3 separate regions of the Homo sapiens genome follow, and regions 1 and 3 are each reported to be linked to region 2. The links are microRNA targets in miRTarBase. Many come from high-throughput screens and were not tested one by one. Region 2 holds a microRNA gene; each other region holds the end of a gene's coding sequence.

What was found. The annotated mature microRNA hsa-miR-122-5p reads UGGAGUGUGACAAUGGUGUUUG and lies in region 2 at 3,317-3,338, opposite strand. An mRNA with a match to its seed (bases 2 to 7 or 8) in the 3' UTR can be bound and repressed. Matches are read on the target gene's strand: a 7mer-m8 pairs with bases 2 to 8, a 7mer-A1 pairs with bases 2 to 7 and ends in A, and an 8mer does both.
Region 1: the mRNA of AP3M2 is a reported target of hsa-miR-122-5p. Seed matches in the 3' UTR shown: 7mer-m8 at 2,825-2,831.
Region 3: miRTarBase lists DCTN5 as a target of hsa-miR-122-5p. Seed matches in the 3' UTR shown: 8mer at 6,084-6,091 and 7mer-A1 at 422-428.

The regions. Positions count from the first base shown.
Region 1 is chr8:42,167,887-42,175,083 of GRCh38, forward strand. AP3M2 (adaptor related protein complex 3 subunit mu 2) reads left to right here. Exons shown (of 9, transcript NM_006803.4): 9 at 1,075-3,297. The coding sequence ends at 1,175. It overlaps PLAT (plasminogen activator, tissue type), which reads right to left. Exons shown (of 14, transcript NM_000930.5): 14 at 6,832-7,197. Among named protein-coding and RNA genes, the nearest start is that of AP3M2, 18 kb to the left of the region's middle. RefSeq lists enhancers at 3,765-4,059, 3,839-4,340, 4,341-4,840, 5,488-5,567.
Region 2 is chr18:58,447,229-58,454,425 of GRCh38, reverse strand. It overlaps MIR122 (microRNA 122), which reads right to left and starts at 3,352; the gene lies at 3,268-3,352. MIR122HG (MIR122 host gene) reads right to left here. Exons shown (of 3, transcript NR_170245.1): 2 at 4,886-5,117; 3 at 3,145-3,607. It overlaps MIR3591 (microRNA 3591), which reads left to right and starts at 3,274; the gene lies at 3,274-3,346.
Region 3 is chr16:23,666,323-23,673,519 of GRCh38, reverse strand. DCTN5 (dynactin subunit 5) reads right to left here. Exons shown (of 6, transcript NM_032486.4): 6 at 1-6,473. The coding sequence ends at 6,376. Among named protein-coding and RNA genes, the nearest start is that of PLK1, 9.0 kb to the left of the region's middle. RefSeq lists an enhancer at 2,877-3,106.

The DNA of each region.
Region 1 (7,197 bases), not on the chromosome of region 2:
CCTTTCTGGGCTTCCTGTTTACAAGGTTTAGTTTCATTACCTGATAAACAATCTTTAGTAACATCTTTTCTGGCATGTTTCTGGGGAAAATTTACAATCCTTCCTTTGAAGTTGGCATAAGTGACCTGAATAAAAGTGCCTAAGACACACTGAGAAAGAAACAGTATTGGTAGAAGGAAGTATTCACTAGCCATTTTTGGATCATCTTAGGGTTGTTCATTTCAGGTTCCCAAGGTTTTCAGTATGAGAATCCATGTGCATTCTCAGCTATAACTGAAGTGTAATTTCCACTCCTTTCTTCTGTTTTCAGAAGACTTTCATGTTTGCTCTTATTTCTATTTTGGAACCACTGGGCCTTTCCAGGTCAGTTCACTATAGTCTGTGCCGACCTTAGCACGGTAGTCATCAGTTACCACTTTGGGGGCATTTACCATGTTCCAGGCACTGTTTTAAGCTCTTTTCATGTGTTTTCTTTTTTAATCCTTAGAAACTCTGTGATGTGGAAAGGAGATGACTTTAGCTTTATATGAAGTTTCTGTTTTTCTGTACAAACGGGCCTTATACAATTTAAGTGATTGGAATTCATTTGATGTATAAGCTCTTCAATCTTAAAACAATAAACTATAAAGCTCTATACCATATAAAATATTCTTGGCTTAGTCTAGTGAGAATACTTAGGAAGCATTCATTTATTAATTACTTTCATTGTTAATTCCTTTATTTATAATTTACTTCATTATTCATTTGTTTTGTTATTCATTTTTTCAGTCCAATAATTTGAGAAAAATCATGCAGTGGTCTAATTTTTTCCTTATCCTCATTTTAGTCTGCACATTACTTTGTACCCTTTCCACTTCAGGGACAGGTCTTCTCATAGGTAGCTTGTCTGTTGGAGCCTTTTTTTGCTGTCAGTATCTGTCCCAAGACTGGAGAATCCATCTGCTCTGCATAAGTGGTTCCCTGTCACAGCAATGTCGGTCCCACTGACTTCAGTGTATTGAACAGAAACAGTTAGGCGACCTGCTCCTTTTGAATAATACTCATGTCTATTTTCCCTCTCTCCCTCCTTTCTAGGACTCAAGGTGAATCGTCTGGATATGTATGGAGAAAAGTACAAACCCTTTAAGGGCATAAAATACATGACCAAAGCTGGGAAGTTCCAAGTTCGAACCTGAAGGGAGCATTTGCTGAGGGAATAGTCTTGCACATTTTTTCATTTCTTACTTGTCTAAAAGTAAAAAAAAATATCAGCCTGTCTCCTAGGTCAGTCCCCTCCTGGACCCACCCGCTCCCTTTTTTCCTTAGCCTTCAGTGCCATGGAACTAATCAAGGGAGGAAAAGGTCACCAGGGAGAACTGGACAGAACTGAAACACAGCAACACCAGTTCTCAAGGACAAGGTGTGTGATGGGGGTAGGAAGCTTGGTGCTTATGTAACCATTTTAAACGTGGTTTCTATAGGAAAGACCAACATTTGTTTAGCTTGCTTGGCTTTAATTATCTAAAGCCAATGAAAGACTTCTTTGTTGATTTTTTAAGATAGAAAGATTAAAAAGAAAGAAAGATGGGAAGAAAATGAATGTCAGTCAAGGAAAGGCCACTTAAGGATCTGCTCTATGAAGGAGAAGAAAGAGGAAAAAGAAGTAAAGGAGTTAGGAGGAGACACTTAAATGAAAGATTGGCAAGAAAAGCAGTCGGACTCTACCTTAAGGAGGGATGGGAAGGAAAGAGTTGAGTTGGTTTCTTTCTGATTCCTCTACTCATGTAGAAAACACTTGTACTTCTGGAAATGGACTGGAGACTTTTTAAATTTGAGTCCACTATTGACATGGAAACCCCAGTGGAATCAGATTTTCCCTCAAAGACCATGATGGTATCGGACTAGTTTTCAGACACTGCCTGTTGCTGTCCATCAGCACTTGGTCTCTTATCTTCAGTGAGAAGGTGACCCGCCTTCTTCCCATGGTGGCTGCCTAAAGTGCTTCTTTTCTAACCCAAAACAGTTCTACTCACTTCCTTTTACAGAATTCACCGGCCATTTTCCTGTTACCTGATCCTTCTACAGGATTTTTAAAAAGTAAGAGAGTTTCAGAGAAGCCGATCCCATAATCCCCAGTGCAGCCAGGGTTTGTGTGTCATCGTACTGGAGTAGAGGGCCGACTCTTCCCATGAAGGTGAGCACAGCTGTGAGTGAGTGAGCTCATATCTCCATTTGTCAGTGCTGGACTGGTACCAGATCGTAACCTTCCCGTTGGTCGGAAACTTTTCCATCTGTCGCCCTAGAAAAAGAGAAAGCTTACCATCGAGGGTGTGGTTGATCCTTGAAGCTGCTTGGTAAAGTTATCATTTCCTCAGTCTTTTCTTTTGTACTCCTATCATGTATTCATTAATATCTACCAGTCCCTTTTCATTCTAAGACAAAACATTTCTCCTAAATCTCTGAATAAAATCAGTGCTGTAGGAAGATGGACTGTGTTGATCATGGGTGTAAGCAACCCAGTTTAAGAAACATGGCAACTAAAGGGATACCTCAGGCTTTCTTTCCCAGTGGGTCATTTTTGTCCTAGTTCAGTGTGTCTGTTACTATTTAAATATTTATACAAAAGGGTTTTTGTTTATAGCTTAAGGAATGATACTGTGCTCTGCTTGGTGCATGGAGAAAAAGGAAGACCCGTACTCTCCACACCCTAGAGCTTTTCTCTAAATATTGTGCAAAGTTTTTGCTAGTTTTATCTTCTGACTTTGGGACTAGTTTTTGCTGCAGAGTTGTGTTGCTTTGTGATTTTCCTCTGGGATAGTGTACTGTACACAACCAGATGTGTTCCACACTCCGTGACTCCGCAGTTTGTCCTGGAGTGACATACACATCCACCATGGAAAGGGAAGCATCTCTGCCTGTGGATTCTCAAGTACTTGGAAGCACCTCTCCTGAGGAACCTACAGGATTCTAAGGTTTCCTAGGTCACTGAACAACTAATCTTGGTCCCTGAATATTTCTAGGTTTGTAAGTGCAGCAGTTTTATTTCCTCTAGAACTCATCCTGTTTCAAGGGAAGTACCTAAGAAGATATAGAGTGTTTCTAGGGTAAGGGACCTGCAGGTGTAAGCATAGATGAAATAACTGTCCTGTCACATGTGCAGCAGGCCATGGAGTGTAGCGGGCATCGCTGCCGCCATTCCTGCAGCATCACCATAAGCAGTGCAGGGTGTCTCCATCGAGCTGTTTGGTTCCATGTGTGTTTAACATGTGCAGAAGTAGCTTCTCTGTTTAAGTTTAATAAAGTTGAGTTTCACCAGTCTTCTATGTCCTAAGTGGTTTGTTACCAGAACTAACAACAGTGCTATGCCACTCAAACCTCAGTAGAAGCAGTGAGTAAGGAATTCATCGACTCAGGAGGATCTTACTGCTTCTGTCCTGTCTAGCCAGCAGACCTAAAGCATGTGTTTTGATCGATTCTTTGGTCACATCTGGAAGATAGCAGATGCTGATATTAATGTCATTTTTAGGGTTGTGAGCATAAGGTCCAGATCCACCTAGTTATTTTTCACCAGAGTTTTAAAAGACGAAATCGTTGAAGCTGCCGGCATTTAGTCTAGGGCTTTCCGCATTCTCTTGACCTGCTTCTCTTGTCTTGTTAATTTAGGCATGAAACGGTGTCGCAGTACTCTGGCGTCTTTATTCCAGGAGAGGCTTCTTACAAGATAAGGCACTGCGAGTCGATTGTTACGCCACACCTGTAACAATTTTCTATAAACATCTCATGGCCATCAAAAAACCTTAAAACTCAATGCGTACTCACTGTGAGTGTTCAGTGCCAGCTAGTGCTCCACCCCTTCTCCCTCTCAGCCGGCGTCAACTGTCTCTTCGCCTGTGCTCCCGGGTGCTCTGACCCTGGTGGTGGGACAGGAAGTTGGTTGTATACATGTACTTTTCTCTGTGGCCGGTAGGTGGGGACTCCATGCCATCAATACTCATTATTTTAATGGTTAGATTTTTTTTTTTTTTTTTTTTTTGGGGGACGTAGTCTTGCACTGTTGCCCGGGCTGGTGTGCAGTGGCGGGATCTTGGCTCACTGCAATCTCCGCCTCCTGGATTCAAGCGATTCTCCTGCCTCAGACTCCCGAGTAACTAGGATTACAGGGCGCCCACCACCATGCCCAGCTAATTTTTTTTTTTTTTTTTTTTTGTATTTTTAGTGGAGACAGGGTTTCACTATGTTGGCCAGGCTCGTCTTGAGATCTGCCTGCCTCGGCCTCCCAAAGTGCTGGGATTACAGGCATGAGCCATTGCGCCTGGCCAACTGTTAGAATTTTTTTTTTTTTTTTGAGGCGGAGTCTCACTCTGTCGCCCAGGCTGGAGTGCAGTGGTGCGATTTCGGCTCACTGCAAGCTCTGCCTCCTGGGTTCACGCCATTCTCCTGCCTCAGCCTCAGAGTAGGTGGGACTACAGGAGCCCACCACCGTGCCCCGCTAATTTTTTTTTTTTTTTTTTTTTTTTTTTAGTAGAAATGGGGTTTCACTGTGTTAGCCAGGATGGTCTCGATCTCCTGACCTCGTGATCCACCCGCCTTGGCCTCCCAAAGTGCTGGGATTACAGGCGTGAGCCGTCGCGCCTGGCCCTGTTAAAATTTTTAAAAGGAAATTTGACCAGCCTGGCCAACATGGCAAAACCCATCTCTACTGAAAAATATAAAAATTAGCTGGGCCTGGTGGCGGGCACCTGTAATCCCAGCTACTGGGGAGGCTGAGGCAGGAGAATCGCTTGAACCCGGGAGGCGGAGGTTGCAGTGAGCTGAGATCGCACCACTGCACTCCAGCCTGGGCAAAAAGAGTGAGACTCCATCTCAAAATAAAATAAAATAAAAGGAAATTTAATTTCAAACTCTGAAACTTCCTCCAAGATCCTAAGTACTGAGGATTGCATGAGTCTTTGGCTTTTGAAGTTAAGTGGAGTGAAAAGTTTATGCACTTTCTGATAAACAGACATGACTGGGGCTCTGGGAGGGTACAGTGTCACCATCCCAGAGTTCCTCTAGGTTTTCACCCAGTAAGAAGAGTTGCACAGGTACCTGGAGATCTTGTTCTCCTGGACTGTTACCATCTGCTTGTTTTATTAACTAGCTGGGAATAATGAGGAGATGATATTTAATTTCCCCTGACACCCATTCCCGGTAATGATGTGTTGCTCTTTGAGCGTGTTTTAGAATTTGCATCACTGGGCTGGGGCCCCGTCTCTCAGTCAGGGGCCTCTTCTGAGCAATTGTCTCTATCTAGTCTGTGGTTCCAAGACTGCGTGGGAGGAATGCTGGGGCCTTTTTACCTCCCATTTCCATCCCCAGGGGCCTCACTGCCTCAGTTCATTTCATTAATCCTGAAGAAGAGCTTGTCCTGCAAAGGGGGAGGGGATGAAACCAGCTGAATTTCTGCCGGAGATTCAGTGGCTGGGGGTTCCTTCGCACTGGTCCTCAGTGTTTTTTTTTTTTTCTTTCTTTCTTTCTTTTTTTTTCTTGACAGAGTCTTGCTCTGTTGCCCAGGGTGGAGTACAGTGACACAATTTCAGCTCACTGCAACCTCTGCCTCCCAGGCTCAAGCGATTCTCCTGCCTCAGTGTTCCAAGTAGCTGGAGCCACAGGCGTGCACCACCACACCCAGCTAACTTTTGTATTTTAGTAGAGATGGGGTTTTGCCACGTTGGCCAGGCTGGTCTCAAACTCCTAGCCTCAAGTGATCCACCCACGTCAGCCTCCTAAAGTGCTGGGATTATAGGCATGAGCCACCGTTCCTGGCCTCAAACAATGTTTTTCTTAAATGGCTGAGACACACATCTGTCTAAAAACTGTAGAACATGCAAGTGAGCAGTCTGAAGTCAAGAAATCTGTGACTTAAGTCTCTGTGACCTGCATTTATTTACTGGCCTAGGTACTTCAACACTTCAGGGATGTCCCCCGCTGCCTCCCCCACCCCAGTCAAGCTCTTGGGAGTTAAAGAATCTCTTTCTTTTGTGAGTTTAAACGACTTTTGTTCCAAGAACCTCTAAACTGAGCAGTTCTGACAACTCCACCAGAGAGACGACCACCTTTCTCCTCTCTGAGGAGCTGTGTCAGCATATCCCCAACAGCAGCATTGCAGCATCCGATTTATTCTTGGAACTAGGATGTCAGTGAGAACAAAAGCTGCCAGACAGCAGCCAGGAATAGGGGTTGCATCTCGCGAGTAGAAAGTAGTCTAAGAGGGCTGGGTGCAGTGGCTCACGCCTGTAATCCCAGCACCTTGGGAGGCCGAGGCAGGCGGATCACGAGGTCAGGAGATCGAGACCATCCTGGCTAACACGGTGAAACCCCGTCTCTACTACAAATATGAAAAATTAGCCGGGCATGGTGGCGGGCACCTATAGTCCCAGCTACTCGGGAGACTGAGGCAGGAGAATGGCGTGAACCCAGGAGGCAGAGCTTGCAGATAGCGCCACTGCACTTCAGCCTGGGCGAAAGAGCGAGACTCTGTCTCAAAAAAAAAAAAAAAAAGTAGTCTAAGAGAAGCAGAATGCAACATTACTTAGATAACGTACTTGTGTGGACTGGTTTAGGGGTTCAATTTCTAATGAGCAGAAAATTAAGACAATGGGAAACAGATGGCCCAAATACCAGCTTCTAGGCCGAACCAACGGTTGGGATGTTGCTGTGTTAGCAAGGTCATGCGAGGTTCTTCCTCCCTATCCCCACAGCGTTCCTTTCCTGCTGTCTGCTTGCTTGCCAGCCACCCCCTGGTTAATTTTCCTAAGGCATGCCCAGTTCCTCACTTCCCTGAGCAGAATCTCCATGGCTCCTCGTTGCCTACAGAAGTCAATTAAGTCCAAACTCAGTTTGGTGTTCAGAGCCCCCATAATCTAAATTCCAGCCTATGTTCCTCTTCCTGAAGTTCACTTCAGACAAGCTCAACTCATTTCTCCCTGTACTCCCCTCTCTTGGCCCTCTACATATTCATACCTCCATGGAGAGTGCCTTTTCCACACCTGTCCACAGTCCACGTCTCACCCAGTTATTTTTTCCTTAAGATTCTATTTTTTCCTTAAGATTCCCCAATCCCTCTTGCAACTGAATTCTACTACAAGTCTGCCCTTTTGTGACCGGCTCCACTGTACCTTGGTACTTCTCTAAATGCCATATTAGCCCATCAGACCAAGCATTCCTGTCCCTCCTTTT
Region 2 (7,197 bases):
TGTCTTCTGATTCAATGAAGTATTGAATCAGAAAATATAGGTTTAAGAAGAGTTCATAAAAATATGTAGATAAGCCATCGATACATGCTAACTGCCATGTTATTTCACAAAACTTCCTCTGGGGCTGGATAGAACACTGGACAGGCTGCAAGTGGCAACTTTCACATTCAAAGTACACATTGTACTAAGATGAAAGGATTCATCAGGACTCCATGGTGTGATCCACAAAGCAAAGCTAGACTCAAGTGGCTTGTCTCCCGGGGAAGAAAACATGTCAAGGTGACTGTGTTCTCTGCTGCCTCCCCAGCACGAGTGTGATTTTTAACTGCACGTCCAAGTGAACCCTTTCATCTTGCAAACCATATTCAGAGTCAGTACCTGTCCCCAGGAATGCTTTATTGGAAATGACTGGCAGTAATCATCCTGGGGAGGGAAGGGGAGATAAAAGCTGGTCTGGGAAGATGCCATCATCAGAGATTTGGAGCAGCAGGATTGTAATTAGAGGTAGAAAGGGGAGAGGGAAGCTTTGCCTTCTATGTGTGTTCCTTAGAGATCTACAGAAATGACAGGTCTCCAATCCCGAATGCAAAACGAATCCAGGCAGCAATCATAATAAGCCATTAAATGAGCCAACCTAGCAGAAAAGACACAGAATGCTATTCACTTGGCTCCCTGTTTAATTCCACCTGAGAAAAATCTCAGGGTGAGTGGGAGTGAAAAGGAGCATGGAAGACCCAGTCCTCACATTGTCCCCGAGTCTGGGAACAGTTCAGAACCTCAAGACTCTGGGTCATTTGGTGCCACATCAGGTGGCTGGGTCATGTAGATGGCTGCTTGGTGTTGGGACAGTTTGTCTACCCTCTTCCTGACCCCAAAGCTACCACTTAGATGTTCCTTCTCTTTCATTTCATGATTACAGGGTTTTGCAATTTTCAGCTTTCTCTGCACAATGAACACTCACAAGGAGACATTCTTATATGGCTCATCCCTCTCTAATTTACAGGTTTTCCCTCAGAATCCACTGACAAAGCAGATGGGGAGATGAGGATATTGATCGCATACTGGCGTGATTAACCCAGGTTCTACACAGATTCGACTGTGAAGCATGAGATTTCACAAAATAACTAGGCCAAAGGAGGCTGCAGGTACAGGACAGAACTTTAGACTTAAGAGATCCATGTTGAGTTGTGGCTGGAGGACCAGACGATTCCAGAACCCTTTAGACTCTGTTTGTCAAACCGATCATCTTTGCCCCATGTTGTATGGATCAAATGAAATGGCATGTGATATGGTTTGGCTGAGTCCCCATCCAGATCTCGGCTTCAATTGTATCGCACAGAATTCCCACGTGCTGTGGGAGGGACCCAGGGAAAGGTAATTGAATCATGGGGGTCAGTCTTTCCCCTGCTATTCTCATGATAGTGAATAAGTCTCACGAGATCTGATGGGTTTATCAGGGGTTTCCACTTTGGCTTTTTCCTCATTTTCTATTGCTGATGCCACGTAAGAAGTGCCTTTCATCTCCCGCCATGATTCTGAGGTCTCCCTAGCCATGTGGAACTGTAAGTCCAATTAAACCTCTTTTTCTTCCCAGTCTCGGGTATGTCTTTGTCAGCAGCATGAAAACACAGACTAATACAGTGTGCATGAGCGTGATCTGTATAACAGTAGAGCCCTCTATTAATGCCTGTTCAATTAGAGCCTTTGCCAAAAAAATACACACAAAAAGGAATGTCAGTGTCTCAATTATTTCAGGGAGTCTGATTCTCTTCTTGACAGTAGATGGTGCCAGGAGGGAAGAAATGAGAGGTGGTAAGAGATGCAGGGCAGGCAGGGGTGCTCTTCTTCTTCTTTGGACAGAGGCATCTCATGACCTTGAAGCCTTTGTAGTGTATCATAAATGTGTGGGCTGCATTCAGGTGAGGCTTTCCAGCAAGGGACTCAGAATTATTTCGCAAAGTTTTGCTCATTTGGCTCCCGTTTGGAACAATTACAATGGTCCCAAAATATAATGCGAGCCAGTGAATGCCCATCTCTGGAAATAACATCAGACACATTTAATTTAAAAGTGTCTTCAATGCCTAGGACAGTGTCAGGCACACGGTAGTCTCTACACATATTTATTTCATAAGTGAATGGTTGAATGGTTGAATTTGTTTCTGATGGTTGATCTAACCCTGTCTATTTGATTAAACATGTCCTACTTCATTTAACCAAGCCTGGGGAGGGAAGCTTTAGTCTGGCACAAACGAAACCTACTCCTGACTTTAGACACCTCTCAGAGACAGAATGGGTTCCAAACCAGAGCACCTGGCTGGGCCAACTGTCCTAGAAACTGCATGGGTCCCAGATTTGCTATGGCAGCTCACACATGCTTCATAAACAATTTTCTGATGGTAATTCACTGATGCAAGAGGAAGAAAGGCCTAGTGTACGAATTCAGTAATCAGCCTAGTAATTGATTGAAATCAGTAGAAATCAAACATATTCTAGAATTTCTGAAACGTCAGTGAAACCATGTGTAAGTTTATTAGAAAGTTGGATTTTTTAACGACGAAAAGAGAAGGACCCACACACCTTAATTTTGTACCTATAAGCTTGCGGTCTGTCTGCATAACATAGATTTAGCCCAGTCTTAGCCTTCTGCGTCTAACACTTTCCTAACTATTCATTTTAAGTCTATAAGCATGGGTTAAATGATTACCTCGTGCCTGGCCTTGTGTTGGGGGCTCTGAGGAACTCTGCAATCTTTTTATTTTCATTTTTTGAGACAGGATCTTGCTCTGTCACACAGGCTGGAGTGCAGTGGTACCATCACAGCTCACTACAGCCTCAACCTCGTGGGCTCAATTGATCCTCCCACCTCAGCCTCTCAAGTAGCTGAGATTACAGGCACATGCCACCATGCCTGGCTAATTTTTGTAGTTTTTGTAGAGACACGGTTTCACCATGCTGCCCAGGCTGGACTTGAACTCCTGAGCTCAAGTGATCCGCCTGCCTTGGCCTCCCAAAGTGCTGGGATTTCAGGCGTGAGCCACCGTGCCTGGTCTGCAATCTTTTTATTGACTTGGGAAAACAAGAAAATTAATCACCAGCTAAGGTATGTAACAACAGCATGTGAGAGGCAGGGTTCAGCTAACCATATTGGTTATGAGTGCAAAAGAGCCAGACTTTATTCAGTAAGTACACAAGATTGAGAAGACTGATATCAGATGAACCTTCTTGCTCAAAGCAAACGATGCCAAGACATTTATCGAGGGAAGGATTGCCTAGCAGTAGCTATTTAGTGTGATAATGGCGTTTGATAGTTTAGACACAAACACCATTGTCACACTCCACAGCTCTGCTAAGGAAACTCTGTAGCCACGAAGGTGTTAACTTCACCTCCACATTCCACCATTGTCACTGATAATAGGGGAACCTTGTCAGCTCCACATATTGTGACCTAAGCAGAGAAAAGAAGCATCACGGGTACAAGCATCTTGAGCAATGGGAAGAGCTGAACACTCTCAATGAAAGGCTTCTGTGTTCTGGAACAGTAGAGTAGTAGAGGGGTCCACTGCCTGTGTTCCACTGCCACCCAGCAAACCCCTTCTGCAAAAACTTCCTGTGAAAATGGACAGGAACTCTGTTTGCAACAATTTTCTAAAATGGCTGAGAGAGAAAGAATCTCTAGAGGGAATAGATTTCTGGAAATAAATACTTATTGGAAGACTACATTATAAATGAGAATAATCTGGCCGAATGAATGGATACTCTCCAACTCTCACCTCTTCACCTACTTCCCAATCCATCATCAGTAAATGTGATCAATTCTGCAGTCTAGGAAAATTAAAATTATTTTATATGGGGATACAGCAGTTAGATGTGTTGTGATCTACTCTCCGTGGCATCTATTGGATATAAAGGCATCTGGTCTTGCTCAAATGTTCAATCTTCTTGACCACAGTCATTTTCCACCATGGCGGTGGGTGGGAGATGAGGGGAGAGAAGAAAGAGAGGAAGATGGAGAGAGAGGAAACGAGTCCATTTTTAGTTCATGATACTCATTTTCTAGCAAAAAGGGAGCTCCAAATAAATCCCTACAGGATTTACTTGGCTTTCCTGTTAAAGATGGTTTATAATTGTTATGTGAACTCCTGCCCACCATGGAGAATGAGAGGAAATAAAGCATTTTACCTACTCCTTCTTTTCCTGCAAATGCTGAAAAGGGAAAGGGTTGGGAGCCAGTTATTTTTTCCCCAGGATAACTGAGTTGTTAACATCTGACCAGAGTCTTGCTTTAGCCCTAAAACCGGCCCATCTTTAACAGCTGTAAATGAACCCTTCCGTATTTTTCAGAAAAAAAAAAAAAAAATTGCGCCTTATTCTCATGTAGATCCTGAAATCACCCTCTTCAAGCTGGACTTGCAGTGATTATCCCCCTGCGAAAGCTGAAAGTCGTTCTGCTCCCATGGGTTGGAGTGTTGAAGTTGCCTCTTTTTTTCTTTCCCTTTTTCACTTTGTGGATTCGTTATCTTCCCCTAAGTGACTGATTTCCTTTGGTTCCTGTCTGTGGCCCTGGCTTTCTTTCATGAAATGTGGTCATTTGCAAGGCAGCAGGCCGTGCCAGTGCTACACATACTCTCTTAGGTGGGACTCGCCTCCTGGGCAGTTTTCCATGACTCAGAGAGAATGACTACGAACCCTAGAACTGCTCTAGGTGGCCCCAGTCACTGCCACAAACCCCTAGCACTCTGGGTGTGGCCAGCAGTGGACACAGGCATGTGGTGGCCCATCTTGTCCTTCCCTTTCCCTACAGCTCCTCCTAACACAGTAGCCAGGCTTGTCCTGCTTAGTCTTTGCTGAGGGACCTAGAACAGAAATCGCCACCTCCTGGTCATACCAGGGCTATCGCTGACCATCCACAAGAGGCTCTAGAAGTCTCTTAGCTCTGCTGGGAAGAAACAGTGAGAGGTGAACAATTCACTGATTAAAAGGGTCCCCGGAGGATGCGCTTGGAGCGCTCTATCCTGGGCAAGGGCTTGGACCCATTTCACTTCTCAGGGCTCCATAGCAGTATCTGAGCATCCTCCACTTCTCCATGGGGGCTCTGTTGGCTTTTGGCTTTGAATAATCTGCAAAATACAGAAAAGGGAAGGAACAGATGGAAGATGAAAAGAGATGAGGAAGTTAATGCATTACAGGTAAATCTTACCAACTCCCCACCCCCCAAATCAACCTTTACAGGTAAATCTTACCAACTCCCCCCACCCCAAATCAACCTCAATTTCTATGGCCCAGAAATCTATCTCCAGGAAAATGTCAAAAATTTGTAGAAAGATTTACCTATAAGGTTGCTCATAGTGGCATTGTTTATAAGGGTAAACATTGGAAACAACCTAAATGTCCAGCTATAGGAGAAGAGTAATATATTTATGATAGACCATAATTATTTAAATTGATTCTGTAGAAAAGTCTGGTAGACTTGGAAATTCAAGATATGTTATTGAATTAAAAAACAGTTTATAAAACAATATACACAGTATGAGTCCCTTTCTGTGAAAAAATGCATACATGCCTGAGGCCAAAACATCAAATGTTAACCATGGTTATCTTTCAGTAGAGAAATTATGGTTTGTTTTCATTTTCTCCTTTTGTGTGCATTTGTTAATTTATGATTCATATGGCACTTTTTTATTGAGAAAAATGAGGATTTAAAAACTTTTAGGCAATTTTCTTTCTGGACTCTCAATACAAATTCCTTCTTGCAAAATACTCTTCTGAAATTGGGAAGGTTGGAACCCATCCTGCTCATATACAACTTGTCACAAGCATGAAAAGTTAGTGCTGTGCTGAGTGGCAGGCCTCAGGCTAATTTTTTAGCAAATTATTAGTGAAATACTTTATTATGCAGTACAATAATTTTATGGTATTATTGCATCAATCACTAAACACATATTGAGTGCCAATCATTTTCTGTCTTGTGAGCAATTTTTAAACATTGCTAAAATGGCCAACATCTTTTATTACTACTTTGTTTCTGCAGAGGTGGTTAAACTGTCAATTTACAAAGCAGTTTAAACAAACAAGCAGAAGGTTTTCTTTTTTTAAAAAAAAAAAGTCATCCAATAATATATCGCTAGTAAAATAAATTAAAAGTGGTTAGTGTCAGGATCCACTTTTGAATATTTTAAACATTCACAAAATAATTTCTCATTCTGCAGATTTTTAATGTTCTAGTATTTTCAAACTTAACAACTGAACTTAAATAGTACGAGCTAATAACAAATAGAAACATTATACACTGGTTGGGAAGTATTAACACGTTATTTCCTTTGAAAAAATAATGCTTAAGGCAAAGATGTTTGATATTAAGCAGGGTGACTTGTCCAAATGCCAGCACAATTTTCTACAGTGTGGAAAAGGCCTTGAGGGATTCTGTTTAGCTTCCCTGGGCCCCGATCCCATCCACATAAATCTCCCACCATCTCTCTTTATGCCTTACTTCCTGAGATCTCCCTGAGAAAGGTAGAGTGCTAGCCATTCCTGAATGGCAGTCTATTAATACTAAATTTCTCCTGGAGTCTCAGCTACTCAGGAGTCTTAGGCAGGAGGATCCCTTGAGCCCAGTTGTTTGAGATCCCATTTCTAAAGAAAACACACACACGAAATTTCTGTGTGCTGTCATCTTCCTGCACTCGTCTTCCCAACAGTGATGAAATCTCCAGGCATCTCTAGCTGCTGTGGCCAATTCAGAATGCAGCTTTCCCACTGGATCCGTGAGTATGAAAAACAGGCTAGATTTGGTTTGCTCCTCTTTTAATGCCCTGCATTTCTTTTCATAAGTGAGAAAAAAAGCTCATTAAGGAGGAAGCTTTTACAAAGCCAGACCCTCCAGCAAATTCACCACTCTGTACGCATTCTGTATGCACCACAGCTCCCAGCGTGACGTCTTAGATTCACAAGTACCAGGAATATCGCAACACTCACTTTCTCAGGTCAGATCTGGGCACGAGCAGCTTGTCTTTGCTTTAAGATGTTGTTCCCAGGGGCTGAGAGCATTCTAGGGCCAACCCCATAGGGGGTTTGGGTGCTTTGGGGACTGTGAAGTGTCACCTTGCTGCAAACCTAACCCATCAGTACCAAAAAAAAATTTCTTAAAAAGTGAAAGATAAGTGGAGATGCTTTTTACTCTGAATCCACGTTTACTGCCAT
Region 3 (7,197 bases), not on the chromosome of region 2:
TGAAATCAACCAGTAAAAACAAGTTCAAATATTTTTCATTCACACACTCAAGGCCTGCTGAGCATCCACTGCATGTGTTTTACTTGTTCCATTAGAAAGGTTTATTAAAAAATGGCGGGGCACAGTGGCTCATGACTGTAATCCCAGCACTTAGGGAGGCCAAGATCGCTTGAGCCCAGGAGTTCAAGACTAGTCTGGGCAACATGGTAAAACCCTGTCTCTATTTAAAAAATAAACAAATACAAGCAAGTTTTTTTTTAAAAAATGATATATTAAAGAAAATCCTCCTAATTCTCTTATGTCTTTTCATAGCTGTTTCCATGTTCTCATATTCCCATCCTTGTCAACATGGAATTTTTGTTGTTGTTGTTGTGGTTTTTTTTTTTTTTTTTGAGACGGAGTCTCGCTCTGTCGCCCAGGCTGGAGTGCAGTGGCACAATTACAGCTCACTGCAAGCTCCGCCCCCTGGGTTCGCGCCATTCTCCTGCCTCAGCCTCCCAAGTAGCTGGGAATACAGGCACCCGCCACCATGCCTGGCTAATTTTTTTGTATTTTTAGTAGAGATGGGGTTTCACTGTGTTAGCCAGGATGGTCTTGATCTCCTGACCTCGTGATCTGCCCACCTCGGCCTCCCGAAGTGATGGGATTACAGGCTTGAGCCACTGCGCCTGGCCAAACATGGAATTTGTTTTATACAGTTGCAATTATGGTCCATTAATACAATCTATTTGTATGTTATCAGTAACAGTAATACTAACAGTGAACCCTTATTAAGCATTTACTATGTGCCAGGCACAAGGCTAAGAGTTTTACAGAGATGATCTCATTTACCTTGGGTTACTTACCCAACCAAGGTTTATAGCCAGCAGGTGGCAAAGCTTGAATTCCAACCCAACTCTGCTGACTCCCAACTACACCCACCTGCACACTTGCCTCTTGGGCCTTGTTTGTCTGGCAAGTCCTAAATCCCAGACTCATTTGTTCACTTGCTTGCTTCCTCCCTCCCTCCCTACCAAAACACAGTATGATCTGTCGGTTAAACTCAATAGACTAAAAACTCCGGGTTCAAATGCTAGCTCCTCCATCACTAGCTGTATGACCTTGGGAAAGTACTTAATCTCTCTGTGCCTCAATTTCCATGTTTATAAAATGGGATAAAGTGCCCATTATAGTGCCCATTTCCTAGGATTCTATCCAGGAGATGATGTGCCTATTTCCTAAGGTTCTTATAATGAGATTCTGCAAGGACAGCACTCCAAATAGTACAGGCACATGGTTTTGACAGTTGTTTCTGTTATTATTGAAATAAAAAGAACCTATACCTGTTCCCAGGAAGCTCAGAGTCTCTCACAGGCCTTTTCAGTTCCTGGGGCTCTCATATTTCCTCATTCTCCCAGACTCCTCTGACCCTACTCTTCCTCAGGTTCTTACTGCTCCTGTGGGAAATCAGAAAGAGCAGCCAGCAGACAACACCAACTGAGATGAATGCAGCTGAAATGGCACAGGTCAGTATGGCCAAGAAACACCATGGGCTAATGTTCAGACCCATGGTATGAAAGCCAGAGTGGGTGTGAATTTCACTCCCATGTCTCTTATCTTGGATGGTTTTCATCTGCATGACCCATTTGCCCAATGCCCAATGGATGTGAAGATACAGAAAAGTCCAGGTACTGTTTTCAGGGAAGTAAGATGTCCTGTGCCAACTCTTCTCACTTCAGGGTCCAAGTCAGAGTGCACAAGGAAAGCAGGTGGGGCTGGCCCACCAGCAAAAGCTTCAGGAGAGCAAGGGATTGGCTGACTGGGCTGCAAGGGTAGTGTTCAAAGCCAGCTGCCTTGGAGGCCAAGATAGTGGAGGAGCTGCATAAAACATGGATTTTGCAGCCAAGTAAGAGCTGGCCTTGATTCCAGCTCAGCCATTTATTAGATGTGTGGCATTGGGCAAATTTACTTAACCTCTCTGAATATCAGTTTCCTCTGCTGTAAAACAGGCTGTGAAACTCTCACTTTTTTGACAGTTGGGAGGATTAAATGTTTGCACCCCATAGATACAAAACAAGGAAGGGTGATTTCTCCATCTCTTGTTTGTGGCGGACTGATTATAAAGGGCAAGATGTTTTAAATTTTATTTTAAATTTTAAAAATATGTAAGAATGCTATGCCTTATACTCTAAGGGGTTTTGCTCAAGGTGTATCACTTCCTAATAAAAGTGCCTAATAAACTGCCGTTTATTGAGTGCTCACCCTGAGCCAGTACTTATGCTTTACATGTATAAATGCATTTCAATCATCATAATACCCTATCCAACTTCCCCATTTTATGGATGAGAAACCTGAGGTTCCACGAAGTAAGATAACTTGCTCAAAGTCACAAGGCTAGCCAATGGCAGGCTGGGATTTGATCAGCCTGACTCTAGCACTCACACTCCTCACCACTATGATGGCTCTCAAAATGGGCCCCTCAGACCCTCTCTGTATTTTGACTCTTTGGCTTTCTCACTCACTAAGCTGTGAGATCCCTATGAGAAAGAACTGGCTCCATCTTAGTCTCCACTGTATCCCCAGGACCTAGGAAGTGCTTGGCACCTAGTAGTGGCTTGGAAAGCACTTGTTAAATGAATAAATGAGTGATGGTGTCTCTCTTCTCTGTGCAGCATATGGTGAGGGGCCCACCTTCTTACCCCTAAATGGAAGCAAGCACATATTCTACTAAAAGCACAAGCCCATTGCTGGGGGGCTCTAGAAGTGTTTCAGTTATCATGTACTTATGGGAACTGTAGAAGTTGGCGAGACATTTTGCTGAGACCAGTTCTGAAAAAACCAGGCCTTCGGACACGCTGTCCCAACACTGCCAGTATCATTTCAGGGGACTTGCAGCTCCATGGAAGCTAACCCCCAGGAGACCAGCCAGCTGGATTTGACTACCTATAGTCACCATCCAGGTTGTCAGATGCCAATTTTTTTTCAGGAGAACCGCTGAGGCTAGCCAGAATATGGCTGGGCAGCACCCTCTAGGCTCTCACTGGATAGAACAGGATACAGAGAAAGGCCTCCCTAGCCACCAAGACCTCTTCCTTATAGCTGAGAAACTTCCAAGGATATGTTAACTATGAACAATGTTTGTCTGATTAATTTCAAGTCTGCCAGATGTATCAGTGACTAAGAAAGGAACTGTGGCCTCAGATCCTGAGTGAAATGGTTCATGCAGAAGTGACTAATACAGAAGCCACCACCCCAACCCCAAATAACCACAAGGGCTCTGTGCAGCCATGTAAAACAGAATCAGTCAACAGGAGGCTCACAAGACAATCATTCACCTTTGTTCCCTGCAGCAGGTATCCTGCAATCTGAGACTTATCTTGAGCTGGGGTAAGGTCTGAGGCATGCTGGCAGGGTGTGTGAGGGTTGGGGGTGAGGGTGGTCACATCCAGGCAATCATTCTATTAAGGATGTGCTAGATGACCCACAGACTCAGGCCTGACTCCTCAGGAGCTCACAGTTAGTAGGGGTTCAGACAAGAACACAGGTACATAACTAAAACTCTATTGATAAGGGCGCCTCGGTAAGGTGCTATGGGAACCATAAGGATGCAGTTCCATGGCCCAGTCAGCTCATCTGGGGAAAAATAATAAAACAAAAAGGAAGCAGTTCCAGACAGAAGACCATCTCCAAATGGTTCTTTATTGAACACCCACTTTGGCTAGGCAATATCCTCCCCCTGCCCTCTAATCCAGGCTCAGGTACCCCCAGTGGAGTATCCTCAGAAGGCAACTCCCAAGACCAGGAGTAATGAGAGATTGGGCAGAGGGTAAGGGACAGCAGGGAGACGGAGGAAAATGAAGACACCAGGGAAAGAGGAGAGGCCTGAACTGGACAGCTGATGCTTTGTCCTGCCCAGCACCCATTCGTCCCTTCTTCAGGTAATATCATCTGCCACCACAACCACCAGCACCAACTCTCAGTCTCTGTGGGTACATGCCAGGCCTGTCCATTTGGTGTATTCCATCTTCCTGGCCACAATGATGACTTGAGGCTGGATACCTTCCTCGTCTGGACCAATGAGAACCAAATCCAGCAGTTCTGTCAGCAAAGGGGAGCTCTTTTTATCAATAACTGGTGCTGTGGGGCCACACTGTGAAGCCCAAGAATAAAGCCAACTCAAATGAAAGCAGAGCTGAGAGCCAAAGAGACAGATCCCTGTTTGGAGTCCTGGGATGCAGCCTGAAGCCCAATCTAGCCCATCCTTTTCAGCTACGTGAGCCATTAAATTCCCTCTGCCCCAAGTGAACTGGAAAGAGTCCCAACCAAGGTCCTTCCCATCTGGTTGTTCTTCTGGAAGTATTTTGAGGACAAGGAGATTTTCATCTCCAGGGTTATAAAAGTAATTGTGTGGTGACAGGCTGTTCCTAGGTCCCTGGGGTGAGAGCCACCATGGAGACAGAGTCCAGCTCGCCTTTCCTAGGATACACACTCACGACTGTCAACACATCTTCGAATACATCAGCACATAATTATAAACTCCTATTGTTTGTAGTAGCTATTGTTTTTGTCTTCCCATCACCTTGTTTTGGATGAAGAAAAGGTCATGACCCAGACTGGATTAATCATGTGGCCAAACATGCATGGCCACAGTGACTGATCCAAGAGGACATGGAACTCACAACAAACCATTGAGAACTTTGGGAGTTTCCAAATTCGAACTGGAAGGGAAGAAACCTTTCATTCAGAGCCCCCAAGCTAGGAGGATGCAGGTCTGGAGCTATCAGCTGTCATGGCTCCAAATGCACGGCGAAGGCTCATGTGCAGCAGGAGGAAAGGAAGCCAACAAAGAGGCCTGGTTGAGTCTGCTTGTTGTCTCCCAATGGCCATTCTTCCCCCACTCCTTTTTACTAGCAGAATCTCCTTCCTCAGAGTTTTGGCTGCCCAAGTAGAAACTAAATTTACAGCCTCCTTTGTTGCTAACTGTGGCCACATGGCAAGACAGTAGGAACCTGGGTGCCTGATGACATCATGGACCAGCCCCTTGCCTGGCCTGGACCAGCTGACTATCACTGCACTGTTATGGGAGAGAGAAATAAACTTCCATCTTGTCGAAGCTATGTATTTTGGTGGTTTTATGTATAAACATTTTAAAAATAACAAACTAGAAAGGAGTTCTAGATGGAACTAGTGGCAATGATTACATACAGCTGTTTTGTTTTGCAAACCCCACAACTGGATATTAAGTCAGGATAGCTCCTGCTAAATTCTAACCTCAAGGCTGAACTGTTCTGCCCTATTCACTTACAGATCAGAGCATTAGGCAAGGACAACCTTCTTAGCCCCTCACTTCTGAATCTTCCTTCTAAGCTAAGAGGTCAGAGCAGAACGAGGAAATGTTGTGCTATTTGGCCAGAAGGAGATGGTAAGAACAGCCCTAGTAACTTCATTTACTCCTGAGGCTCTGTGCCCACAAACTGATTCTAAGAGCCCTTCCTGTATATATGCGAATTAGCTCTAAGTACAGACATTTTGGTGTGAATTGTGGAGTTTATGGCAAATACAGGGTAGGCTGAATGGTTCTAGGCCAGGAAGCAAGAGTTCACAAATGCGGTGTCTTCAATGAAATAAGGTAAGTACCTTGAAGCAAGGAGTAACCACCTGACTAATGCATCCACATGAGAGACTCAAATCTAACACTTGGCAAAATTACAATCTGGGATACTGAGGTCCCCACTTTTAGTGAAAGCCAAAGGCCCTAGGTCAAAATGCTAAAAAGTCTTTTACTAACTATCCTAGGACAGCTAAGGTCATTTTGGGAAGAAGAGAGAAACACTATTCACCCCTCCCTTCAAGTTTTAATAGACAACAGGAATCTGGGCTCTGAAAAGTCACAAACACCTTTCCCAAGATGATGAGCAACTGCAACAACTGGCCAAATGTGTTAGCAGCAGAAAAGCTGGGCATTACCTGTGTGAGAGGCGCTCAGCATGGGCAGTGAATGGCCGTGAGCAGCGCACCAGCTACATAGCCTCCACACCGGAAGGGTGCTGCTGCTCTGCAGGTCCGTTTCAGGCGGGATCCAGCCATCCACAGGACCAAGGGGCTGGAGTGTTGGGAACAGATGATTCTGTGTTCCACAGATAATGGTACAAAGTGACTGTTCATAGATAAGGTGTAAGCACAGCATTTGAAGACAGCTCCTCCAGATGGTCTGTCTGTTAGTGAATTCTTAAGCACTTAGAGCCTTGAAGATTGAGAAATTCTAAAGAAATTTTTTAAAAGGAGGAGGGTGGTAGATGTCAAAGACACAAAAGCTCTTTGTAGGTGCTGACTGGCTCACTTTGTCCCCAGGTTCATCTTAGAGCTCAAGCAGATTCAAGACATGAGGCAGAGATGCTAGACTTGCGTCAGGGGCAAAAACTTCTGGTAGTAGCTCTTGGTGACGTCAATCATCAGCTCCTGAGTGCACTCCGGGAGCTCCCCTGAGAAGAGTCCTGGGGAAAGAAAGACCCAGCTCTAAGGAGCTTGAAGAAGTTACAAGAAGTTAAGATATTTCTCTGGCAATATCCTTCTCACCTCAATCAGATGCATGTCTGACAATCACTTAAATAATCGCTGAGGCTGTTCTGGTCCAGTGCTTGCTAAGAACAGCTAAACTTTTTCACAGCAGGACCCCAATATGGAGAAATTACTAAACAAAAGTCTCTCCTTCCTCCTCTGCAAAAGCAGAGATGCATGACACGGTAGAATGGCCAAATGCCTCCCCGAAGAATCTGAGTGATGATTTTGTTCATCTTAGAAACTCAGATTCAATGATCTGAGAGATGAGATTTATTTTTTAATTGGAAAAACAATTAAACCACTCAGTGGTAGGTATCATATACTGTCAAATCTCTCTGTTCATATTATTTTCCATCTGTGAATTTATGACGTGCCTCTGTATATGCTACATGATTTCAGCTGTGTAAAACAACATGGAGAAGAAGATACTGTCTTGGGGTAGGGCTAAGGGAATGTGAGGTTTTCTCCTTCCTTCTGCTTTTCAGTGTTTTCCAAGTTTTCTGAGAGAAGTACGTATCACTTTTGTTTCCTCAAGCTTTATAATTTGGAACTCCGGGCTCCTGATGGGCTTTACTTGTGAGCATTCTATCAGCCAAGGTCCAGAGATAATGTATTAATATTTGCCCCTCTCAGGTATCCCCAGGGTATTGCTGGTCT